Linked DNA regions of Homo sapiens. The protein of the gene in region 2 purifies or fractionates together with the protein of the main gene of each other region. This does not show direct contact. Each region holds a gene or a part of one and is shown on either strand. Other genes may lie near its edges.

Region 1 (3,727 bases), on a different chromosome or scaffold from region 2:
GAGGCGGGCAGATCACGAGGTCAGGAGATTAAGACCATCCTGGCTAACATGGTGAAACCCCGTCTCTACTAAAAATACAAAAAATTAGCCGGGCGTGGTGGTGGGTGCCTGTAGTCTCAGCTACTCGGGAGGCAGAGGCAGGAGAATGGCGTGAACCCGGGAGGCGGAGCTTGCACTGAGCCGAGATGGCGCCACTGCACTCCAGCCTGGGCCACAGAGCAAGACTCCATCTCAAAAAGAAAAAAAAAAAATTCTAATCAGAGAGCTGGGAGGAGGGCTGAAGATGAGAAAGCTGTAACTTTTTTTATTTGGATAAAACATGCTGTTAGTACAAGTTTCCCAAAACCAAGGGGAAAATGATGAGTGCCTGCTTTAAAATTATTAAAGGAAATTCTAAGCAGTCAATGAAGACAGTTATGTTCCAAATACAAGTTTTGATTATGTGATGCTCTTGCAGTTTGAGAATTTTCTGAGGTATTTAATAAGGCCAATTATAGGTATGTACGTTCATACAGAGAAGATGTGTATACCATGTTGGAAAAGAAGATGAGAAGAAGACAGAAAGCAAAATTGGCTAATAAGAAATGATAAATACACACACAGGTAAAATCAAAAAATGAATCTTTGAAGATTATTTCCAATGCCATTTTAAAATGCTTTTTACAACCATTGATATGCTGAACATACGCAATTAAACTCAGAAGTGATTTATTTTAACCAACAACCCTCTATACACACACCCCAAAAAAGGAAAAGAAAAACTAACAGATCTCAAAGTTCTAGGAAATCAGATATAGTACTTGTAGAGTAATAAATAATAAAAATAAAAACAATATATTTTAACATATAAAATTTTTAAGAAATGATAAAACATAAAGCTAAAACTCCATTTTGAAATAAAATTATCTTGAGAGAATACAGAATTTCTAAAAGTTCTATATATGAATAATTCATGAACATCTTGAATGTACCCTGCTCTTCTAACCTAGGAATTCCACTACTATGTCCCCGGAGTTGCAATTACCTTCCACAGTGAACCACAACAGCAACAAGGTCGTACATTCTGTCTGGATTGGTGGCATCACCTGAAGTGTTAAACAGACGAAGTTCTAAAGGAAAAACTACCCGGTAAGAGAGTTTTGTATATCGATGAAGTTGATCCATATATTTAAATCTCTTCAGGTGTAGAGCTAGAATCATGGGCAGTTTTTTAACTTTCATCCTATTAAAAATAAAAATGAAAACAAAATTTCATAAAAGATATCCACCATGTCCTTGAATTATCAAACTTTACGATATCCAATGAACAGATAGACAATGGTCAGTTTTAATAGCCCAGCAATGCCCAGTTTTGCACATTTCTATCAATTATTTTTATACTGACAAAACAACATTCTGAACATCTTAATATGACCCCACCCTACCCATCATTGTCACACCACATAATTTGACACAGCACTCAATATGGCTCCAAAACAGATGGAATGGCGTTAGTCCTTGGTTAAGGAATCTGTATTTTTCAAACACACGTCTCTTATAATAAGGCTAAATGCACGGGGTGCTCAAGAGTGGTAGAGGGAAGGCCAGGCGCGGTGGCTCACGCCTGTAATCCCAACACTTTGGGAGGCCGAGGCAGGTGGATCACCTGAGGTCATGAGTTCAAGACCAGCCTGGCTAACATGGTGAAACCCTGTCTCTACTAAAAATACAAAAAATAGCCGGGCATAGTGGCAGGCGCCCATAGTCCCAGCTACTCGGGAAGCTGGGGCAGGAGAATCGCTTGAACCCAGGAGGCGGAGGTTGCAGTGAGCTGAGATCACGCCACTGCACTCCAGCCTGGGTGACAGAGCAAGGCTCCGTCTCAAAAAAAAAAAAAAAAAAGAGTGGTAGAGGGAAAACAAGTTTCTTGAAACTGACAATTCCTTTGGACTTGGGTAGACTGAAATCTATTTTTTCTATCAATCTATATGATGCAGGTACAGACTGACAATAGGAGACTAAAACAATAAAAGCACTAAAGACCAATCAAGGTGCTTGTCAGAGACAAGAAATAACTCCATATTAAGAAAAATGACAATGTATATCCTAGAAAGGGAGTAAAATAACCTGGAAACTTAGGAGTTAAGTTTTTAACTGTGAAACACAGGCTGTTCTTCATGTTCTAAACAATCTTTATTATGCCTTTAAATGCCATTTCTCCCTGAGAGTGCCTTTGTACTCCTACTTCACCTAAAAATCTATTCTTCTTTTAATGGCTCAGCTCAAATGTCACACCCTCTGGCACAAATACACCTGCTCTCTTCAATCCTCCATCAGCACCTTACAGGTTCACTTTATATATGTCAAGCTTATTACATGGTAACAATTTTAGGTGATTATGGTTCTTTTCTTCTAGGCCCTGAACTCTTGGCAGCTAGAAAGCATTCCCTTCATTTTTATTTCCCCACTATCTAGCAACATGCCTGACATATGATAGATGCCAAATGCTGCAGAACTGAATTTTAAATGGGTCTGGTGAAGCAAAATACTCCTCACAATTTAAAGAAGTGATATATGGTAAGCCACTGCCTCTAATAAGTGAAAAAAAAAATCATTTTATAACATTATACTAAATCTGCATTCTACACTTCTTAAATATGGTGGATAGCTTATTATTCCTAAATTACTTACTAGTGAATGAACTTGGCCTTTTGGAAACATTAGCCAAAGTAAAGGTAAACACCTAGTCACTCCTAGAAAGCAATCCACCAATATAAATTAGGAGCCTTTATGGCCTTTGTCTCAGTAATCCTATTTCTGGAAATACAATTAAATGTATAATCTCAAAAACATCCCTTATGAGAATAATCTCCTATTAGAGTTCTTTTACATTGTAAAAAATCCCAACTATTCAGCAACAGGAAATGTGGAAATAAATTAGAATTCAAACATAACCGAGTGTTGTACAACTTAAATAAAACAATGCTGATGAAAGTTTCTAGGTGACATAAGAAAATACTTAAGAAGTCAGGATATAAAATTATACATAAAATATAATTCAACTATGAAACATCAGACCTTTTATTAAACCCACATAGAGTTACTGAAAAGAAATCTTTACAAAACAACAAGGTATCCTTTGAGAATTTCCAATGGATGGTAGATGCAAAAGAAGAATTTTCTGAGCATAAAATGAGTGTCAGTGCACTATTAATAAATGGCAGTCAGGTAAGATTAGGAGGAGGAAAGAGAATGAACATGGCCCGATGGTTAGGGAAAATGTGCTTTTAGAAATTACACAAGGGGAGGAGTCCAAATGCAGAAAAGAGAAAATATCTCAATAATAGCAGATACAATATGTTTAATAAGATAACACATGAAGAATATGAATCCTATTTGCCAAAGATCCTCCCAGAGGAGAAGTGCTGGCTACCACAAAGAAACCAACTACCCATGGAATTGTCAAGCAAAAATATGTGTGGAGCCATATTTTAAAGATGATGAGAGACTAGCTTACAAAATTTCCCTCATATTGAAATGGCTCCAAAAAAAAGCAGAAAACTGCTTGAACATACGTGTAAGGAGTCTGAAACTCATTATGTAGATTTTGCAGCAGAAGGAAGAAAAAAGAAGTTGATTTCCTGCTCAAAACACTAAGGTCACCAAAACACCAAAGAATTTATAGGATTCTGGCTTTCCTTCCATTCAAACTTGTGGGGAGGGAGGTTACATTAGGGAGGTCTTGATC
Region 2 (3,827 bases):
AAGAGATTTATGAGAGATGAGAGAAAAGAAAGTGTACACTCACTCTGGCACTTCATTAGGTTCAGGAAGGGAGGCAAATAAAGGTACCTAGATTTTGAATGAATCCACTGGTTGTGGCTGAGAAAGCCTGGTACTTGTCAAGAACACCAACATATTAACCTTGCCATGAGGATAGGGTCTGACATGTCCCCTCAACCACCTGTCTAACAAACAGTAGGGTTTCTGAGTGATGAGGGTGGTGGTGGTAAAGAGAGGTCTTTTGGAAGAGGAACAGGTCTTTTGTGTGCTGACAGGAAAGCTGTGTCCACCACCAGTGTTCTGGAGATCCCTGTTTATTAGAAACCAGAGAGTGGAGCTGGCAATGGTCTGGGATATGTTCACTCAGCAGGGAGCTGCCCAAGTAGCAGTACTTGGGAATAGCCAGTAGCAGGCAGCAATAGGTGACCAGTCTCAGGAAAAGTAATGGGGTCCCATAATTCACACAGACCAACTTGCCCCCTGCTGTTCTCCCTTGACTTCATTAATGCCCAGCAATTGTCCACAGGCCATGCACCTGTACTGTCAGATGCAGAGCAGGGTGAGCTGAATAGGTTCTTAGACACAGCTAGAAATCCAAGTAGGAGGAGCCAGACCAGAGGTCCTGGGAACAAACCGAGTCCAAACAAAGGTAAATACAGTGTAACCTACAGCATCATTCGCTTCGCTTAGAAGGATGTGACCCATCGGCTGGGAGCATGTGATGTTAATGCAGAATAGCAAGACGACCAGGTGAAAGGGGAGCAGCACAGCCACCAAGGTCTCAATCTTCAGGTTGAGAGAACGGAAAGTTTAAACAGAGGGTACAGGAAAGTCAGAACAAAAAAAGTAAAGGGCATACCTAATGCTGTTGCCCAAGCTCAGGTCCAGCTGGTGGTGGCAGGCAACCTTCTGCAGGAGTAATTCCAAAGGCAAAGGTTAACCACACTGGAACCCAAAGGGCCTGGGGATCTCCACTGGCTCCCTTACCAGGCGACGTCTAGCTCTATGGGCGTCTTCACCCAACAGGTAGTACTGCAGTGGATTTGACCAGAGGTCCTCTTTAATAATCTGAGCAATCCTGTCGGACTCTGGAAGGCTGTGGTCTGAAAACCAGGTGAAGAAGCTGCAGATGACATGTCGGTTCCTATGAATGAAGGACTGGGGTCCATGGCCCCGGCGCCACATGATTAGAGTGGAAAAAGACACCACTTGGCCGAAGGATCTGACCTCATACACCTTTACAATCAGCTTGTTTCTGAAGTAAGGGTTTCTTTGAAAGAAGAACTTAAACTTGCAGCCTGTCCTAGGGTGTCTGAGCTCCTTCACTTCCAAATTGGTTAAGTAGCTTAACATCTCGGCATCTTGGCCTCTAATCATGGCAGACAGCTGTGGGTGGTGGCGGAAAGCAGTGACCCAGAAGCCCGGGATATTGCGAATGATGTCATTCCTCTGCTCCAGGTAGTATTCATGAATCTGCCCAAACCTGCGCTCCACCTGCAGGAGCGCCCTGTCAGCCTCTGCATTCACGGAGTCCAGTTCCAGCTGGATGGACTCCAGGGGGTTCAGGTGGAGACCCACGTTCAGGGGCCCGGGCCCGGGCCCAGGCCCTGCCTCCCTGTTTACCTCATCTATTGCTCTGTTTTCTTCCGCCACGTCCATTTCTTCGCCTCCTGGCTTCTCATCCACTGGGGCTGAGAACATGGCACACTCCTCAGGCTTCACGTCCTCGGCCTTCCCCTCTGCAATCACTTCAGACTCCGACCTCCCTGCCCCACAGGTTTCTAGAGCCTTCTCCCCACCTAGGCCGTGCGTCTCTTCACCCGGAAAGCCATTTTTGAGGCTGCCGTCAGTTGTCAGCGAGGCAGAGGCCGCTTCTAGGCCCTCCGCGGGTGGTGGAGTCACTTCCTGCCCCGCTTTGATGGCTCCATGACTGCGACCCGCATCGACCAAGATGTGGAAAGTATGGCCACCATCTGCGGGATCCTGGGGCGCGACCCCCTCCTCTGGAAGCCGGGGCGGTGGGAACACGATTGGCTCCAAGCGGCCATCAAACATATCTGCCATTACCTCTGTCGCCTTGCTCTTTTCTCGGGACCTCTGGCCCTGGTGCGGGTCTTCCAGAGCATAGTCGAGAGTAGCGGGGCTGTGAGGACTCTCCGGGAGGCTCATGTTGGTAGCGGCCAGGGCAGCAGTGGGTAGAGGCCAGGCCAGAGGTAGGTAGCGTCAACGTTCCTCACACAAAATGGCGAGTAAACACCTCGCCCATTTGCGCCGCCCACTCTTCAGTCTCGCGACACCCACCCCTCAGTCTCGCGACACTCACTCCTCAGTCTCGCGAGTCTGTGGTGGTGTCTTTACGTCTTTGTTATTTTAGCCATCGTGCTGGATGAGTAATGATATTACATGGTGGTTTTAATTTGCATTTAGCCAAAGTCTAATGAGCTGAGAACCTTCTCATGTGTTTGTTGGCCACTAGGATATTCTCTCTTGTGCAGTATCCGAGGCTTCTCCCTATTTCTCTACTGGGCTGACGTTATTTTTCATATGGATTTGTAGGAAGCCTTTGTACATGCTAGATACTAGTCAGTCATTCTTCCAGTATAGGTATTACAAATATTTCTCTTCCAGTATAGGTATTACAAATATTTCCTCCCACTCTGTGGGGTTACTTTTCTTTTGGACTCGTAGTTTCGCTGTCGCCGAGGCTGGAGTACAATGGCATGATCTCAGCTCACTGAAGCTGCCGCCTCCCAAGTTCAAGCGATTCTCCTGCTTCAGCCTCCCAAGTAGCCGGGATTACAGGCGCCCACCACCATGCCCGGTTTTTTTGTTTGTTTGTTTTGTTTTGTTTTGTTTTGTATTTTTAGTCAAGACATGGTTTTGCCATGTTGGCCAGGCTGGTCTGAACTCCTGGCCTCAGGTGATCCGCCCATCTTGGCCTCCCAAAGTGCTGGGATTACAGGCATGAGCAACCGTACCTGGCCTACTTTTTCACCATCTTAATGGTACCTTTTGAAGAACAAAAGTTTTTCATCTTAATATGTGCCAATTTGTCATTTTCCCCTTTACCTTAGTGTTTTTCTGCTCTGTTTAAGAAATCTTACCTCTCACCTGGGCACAGTGCCTCACACCTGTAATCCTAGCACTTTGAGAGGCGGAGACGGGAGGATCAGTTGAGCCTAGGAGTTGGAGACCAGCCTGGGCAACACAGCAAGACCCCATCTCTATTTTTAAAAAGAAGAAAAAAAGAGGAATCTTATCTCACCAAGATTGTTCAAATTTATATATGCCATCCATCTGGAATTGATTTTTATGAGTGGGGTCACAATTTCTTTTTTTCCATATGAATATCTAATTGACCCAGCACTGTTTATTGAAAAGACAATTCTTTCCCCATGCATAGGTTTTTAAATGTTTCTGTCAGAAGTGACATAAATCATTGGCTACAGCTAGTCAGTTGGCCTTGTCTAACTTTAATAGGACAGGGAGGTGTAATCTTCTCTTGAGCCTGGAAGGAGGAAACTGGAAATATTGGCAAGTGCTGTATCACTCATCATGAAAAATAATTTGAGAAATATATAAAAGACCAATAGAATTAGGCCAAAGGACATAGAGAAAAGGTAATAATAAACAGGAGAAATTTATGTAAGACAATACAGAGCATTAACCAAAGATTAATAATAAAAGGAGAGAGAAAATAAGCAATATTTGGAGAGAAAATTATAGTCACATTGATGGTTTAAATAAATATAAGACAGGATGTTAGACAGCTTTATGCCAATACATTTTCAAACTTAGATGAAATATAT
Region 3 (3,600 bases), on a different chromosome or scaffold from region 2:
CAGAGAAGCCTAGAAAGCTGAGTGCTCGGAGAACCGGCCTGGGAACAAACAGGTCCTTCCAAGCTGACACATCTGCTTTCTGATCATGAACTTCAGGAATCCATGTCTTCGCTTTTTTGGGCACCTTGGCAGCAGTGCTCTGAGAAGGCTCCAACCCTTTTTTCCCTTTATTTTTCTTCTTTTTTGGAGCAGTTTGGACCAGGTTTTCTGATGTCATCTCCCCAGCCTCCGGATCATCACAAACCATGTCATCTCCCTGGGCCTCCAGCTCAGGATCTTTCACTTCAAATTCTTTCTGGGTACTGGTTCCTTCAGTTGCTACATTTTTACTTTTCTTCAACTTGATCTTTTTCTTTGGTGAGCTAGACTTTCCCTCCTCCTCCTCCTCTTCTTCTGAAACAGCTTGTGCCTTTCTCTTGGGTGCTTCCTTTGAGAAGAGACTGGAGGGATTCTTGGCAGGGGAGACCAACTGGTAATCTGTCAATTCCTCAAAGCACACCAAGTCATCCATCTGTCCATCTGCAAACATATTTGGGTCAATCTTCACTTCCTTCCATTTTCCCACAACTTTGATTCCCTTTGTCTGAAATTTGCCACAGCTTGACTGCTTTGGCCTTGATTTTGTGTCCTTCAACTTCATGGTTGCTGAAAAGGAGATACATGTTCTATTAGGTTGGTGTCTGAGAAGCAGAGGGTTCTGATGTAACAAATATTTTCTAAGCAACTAGGCCCTACAAAGAACTGAGGATACAAAGATGGCTATCACACAGTTGCTCCCACCTAGAGAAGAACAAAGAATACCACAGAACAGACAGCTTTGCCTGGAACACAGGGTACACATGTGATGGAACAAAGACATATGAGCTAGACCTGGTTTGAATTCCAAATCCAACACTTACTGCCTGTGTGACCTTGGATAGTGCCACCCACTCCTCTCTGAACTTCAGTGCTCTCATCTATAAAAAGGGGGGAGGGTACCTAACAATATCTAAGTTGTACATTTTATGTAAATAAAGAAAATTATGTAAAGCACGGAGGATGAAACCTGCCACACCTAAGTCGTTCTGAAGGCAGAGTAAGAATCTCAGGGGTTTTTCTTGTGGGGGCAGGAGGGGTGAGCTTTATTAAAAGCGTACTGCGCTTGCTTCCTTCTCAAGCCTTGCCTGAGAGAGCAAATGCCTGCTCCACCATCCTTTCCTTTGCCAAGCGTCTTAAAACCCATCCAGTTTCTTCATCATATTTTAAGTGGCTTAATGGCCATTTAGGCCCAACTCGTTTGGGTGGAACTCGATCCAGGTTTTTCCTTTTCAGAAAGGCCAAGAAAGATAACAGATTCCGTGAAAAAGACCAAGGTAAACTTTGGTTCAAATCCAGATCCACCACTTGTCAGCTGTGGCTCTGCGGTGGACGTATTAATCTCTGAGTCTCTTATTTCCCAGTCTGCACAATGGGAAAAACGAGGACATCTGTCCCACAGAATCCTTATACGCCACTACGAAAAAGTGACGCACGTCAAAAAAAACCGCTGAGCATGGCGCCCGGCGAGGAGAGCACGTTCGCACACAGTGCCCGCCGGACCCGCTGCGCCACGGCAAAAAAACAAAAAACAAACAAAAAAAAACACAAAGAAACACGCGGGGTTCAACAAGGAGAGGGCGAGGGGTGCCACGCGAACCGGGCGAGGACACGGAGAGCGCCAGGCAGAGTAGAAGGGCCTCTGTCTCCTCGTGACGCCGGTCCCGCGCGGCCCTCTCGCTTTGTCTCAGGCACGAACGCGCGCACGAAACCGAGAAACCGAGAAGCCGAGAAGCCAAGGCCGTCAGGCTCTGATGACCGGACAAGGAGCCCAAGGCGCGGGGACCGTGGCACGCAGCTCGGTTGGACGGCTTGGGCCGGCGGCCGCCCTCTCTGGACCCGGGAACCCACCGGCCCAGAGCGACCCGCGATAGGAACCCGGGTTCCTGGCCTCAGCCCCTCTCCAGAGTCGGCTCCAACCCCGCTCGTTTTGGTACTCACCGTGTGGAGACGCCACCGCAGCTCCGTCAGTCGCGAGTGAAGAACCTCAGAAACCGCCGCTGTACCTCAGCTGCAGCAGCAACTGCAGTTCCGGGGCGGGACCTCCACGCACGTACTCGTGCGCGCTGGGGAGGAAGTCCCGCCCCTATGGCAAACTCAGCTACCTGATTGGCTGCCTCGCGGACCGCAGCAGTGCCGGCGGGAGAGCTGGCTTGGGGCGCTGGCACCTCCTCTTACAGCTTTACTCCTGCCAGCTTGGGAAAAGGCCGGAGAAGGTGAAATTCTGTGTGCTCCCTCCGGCGAGAGACTTTGTCAGCTCCCGCACAGTAACGTAAGTTTTCTTGTATTCTTAGTGTAGTTTCGTTACCGGAAAGGGGTCTCGATCCAGACCCCAAGAGAGGGTTCTTGGATCTTGCACAGGAAAGAATTCAGGGTGAGTCCGCATAGCAAAGCAAAAGCAAGTTTATTAAGTACTTTACTCCGTAGACAGAGTAGGGCGTTCCCGAAGGTAAGAGGACGAACGCGTCCATCCTAGGTACAATGCTCGTACCTAGATCATAGGGAGATGTGCTCTGCTACAAGGGTGACGTGTGATGAGTGTTCCTTGTATTGTAATTGTTTTGGGGCGCCATGAGCTGTGCCCATATAAGATACAAACGTAATTGATAAATGTTGTGTGTGTTCAGACTAATCCACTGACAGGCCGTTCTTCCTTCTCTCTCCCTTTCCTTGGGTCTCTATTCCCTGAGACACAACAGTGTTGAAATTAGGTCAATTAATAACCCTACAATGGGCCTCTAAGTGTTCAAGTGAAAGAAAGAGTCGCACATCTCTCACTTTAACTCAAAAGCTAGAAATGGTTAAGCTTAGTGAGGAAGGGATGTCAAAAGGCAAGATAGGCTGAAAGCTAGGCTGAAAGTTTGCACCAAAAAGTTAGCCAGTTTGTGAATGCAAAGGAAAAGTTACTGAAGGAAATTAAACATTTTACTCTAATGAACACATGAATGATATGAAAGCGAAACAGTTTATTGCTGATTTGGAGAAAATTTTAGTGGTTTGGATAGAAAATAAAACCGGCTACAGCATCCCCTAAACCCAAAACCGAATCCAAAGCAAGGCCCTGATTCTCTTCTATTCTATGATGACTGAGAGAGGTGAGGAAGCTATAGAAGTTTGAAGCTAGAAGAGATTATTTCATGAGGTTTAAGGAAAGAAGCCGTCTCCAGAACATGAAAGTGTAAGATGAGGCAGCAAATGCTGATGGAGAAGCTGCAGCAAGTTATCCCCAAGATCTAGGTAAGATCGTTGATGAAGGTGGCCACTGAACAGCAAGTAGTCAATGTAGACAAAACAGCCTTCTATTGGAAGAAGACGCCATCAAGGACTTTCATAGCTAGAGAGGTCAATGTCTGGCCTCAAAGGCCAAGCTCACTCTTTTGTTAGAGGCTAATGCAGCTAGTGACTTTGGATTGAAGCCAGTGCTTGTTTACCATTCTATTATAAAAATCTTAGGTCTCTTAAGAATTACGCTAAATATAATCTGCCTGTGCTCTGTAAGTAGAACAACAAAGCCTGGATGACAGC

Evidence for each region.
Region 1: the proteins of TSPYL6 (region 2) and USP12 purify together in Homo sapiens (co-immunoprecipitation; 3 studies listed by BioGRID and IntAct, with this or other methods). This does not show direct contact.
Region 3: the proteins of TSPYL6 (region 2) and DDX24 purify together in Homo sapiens (affinity purification with mass spectrometry; 3 studies listed by BioGRID and IntAct, with this or other methods). This does not show direct contact.

Annotation. Positions count from the first base shown.
Region 1 is NC_000013.11:27,074,167-27,077,893, forward strand, and holds part of USP12 (ubiquitin carboxyl-terminal hydrolase 12), read right to left. Parts: intron 1,223-3,727; coding exon 1,025-1,222; intron 1-1,024. UniProt on the Homo sapiens protein: Deubiquitinating enzyme that plays various roles in the regulation of the immune response and inflammation.
Region 2 is NC_000002.12:54,253,965-54,257,791, forward strand, and holds the start of TSPYL6 (testis-specific Y-encoded-like protein 6), read right to left. Parts: upstream 2,266-3,827; 5' UTR 2,188-2,265; coding exon 955-2,187; 3' UTR 1-954.
Region 3 is NC_000014.9:94,079,103-94,082,702, forward strand, and holds the start of DDX24 (ATP-dependent RNA helicase DDX24), read right to left. Parts: upstream 2,101-3,600; 5' UTR 2,017-2,100; intron 646-2,016; 5' UTR 641-645; coding exon 1-640. UniProt on the Homo sapiens protein: ATP-dependent RNA helicase that plays a role in various aspects of RNA metabolism including pre-mRNA splicing and is thereby involved in different biological processes such as cell cycle regulation or innate immunity.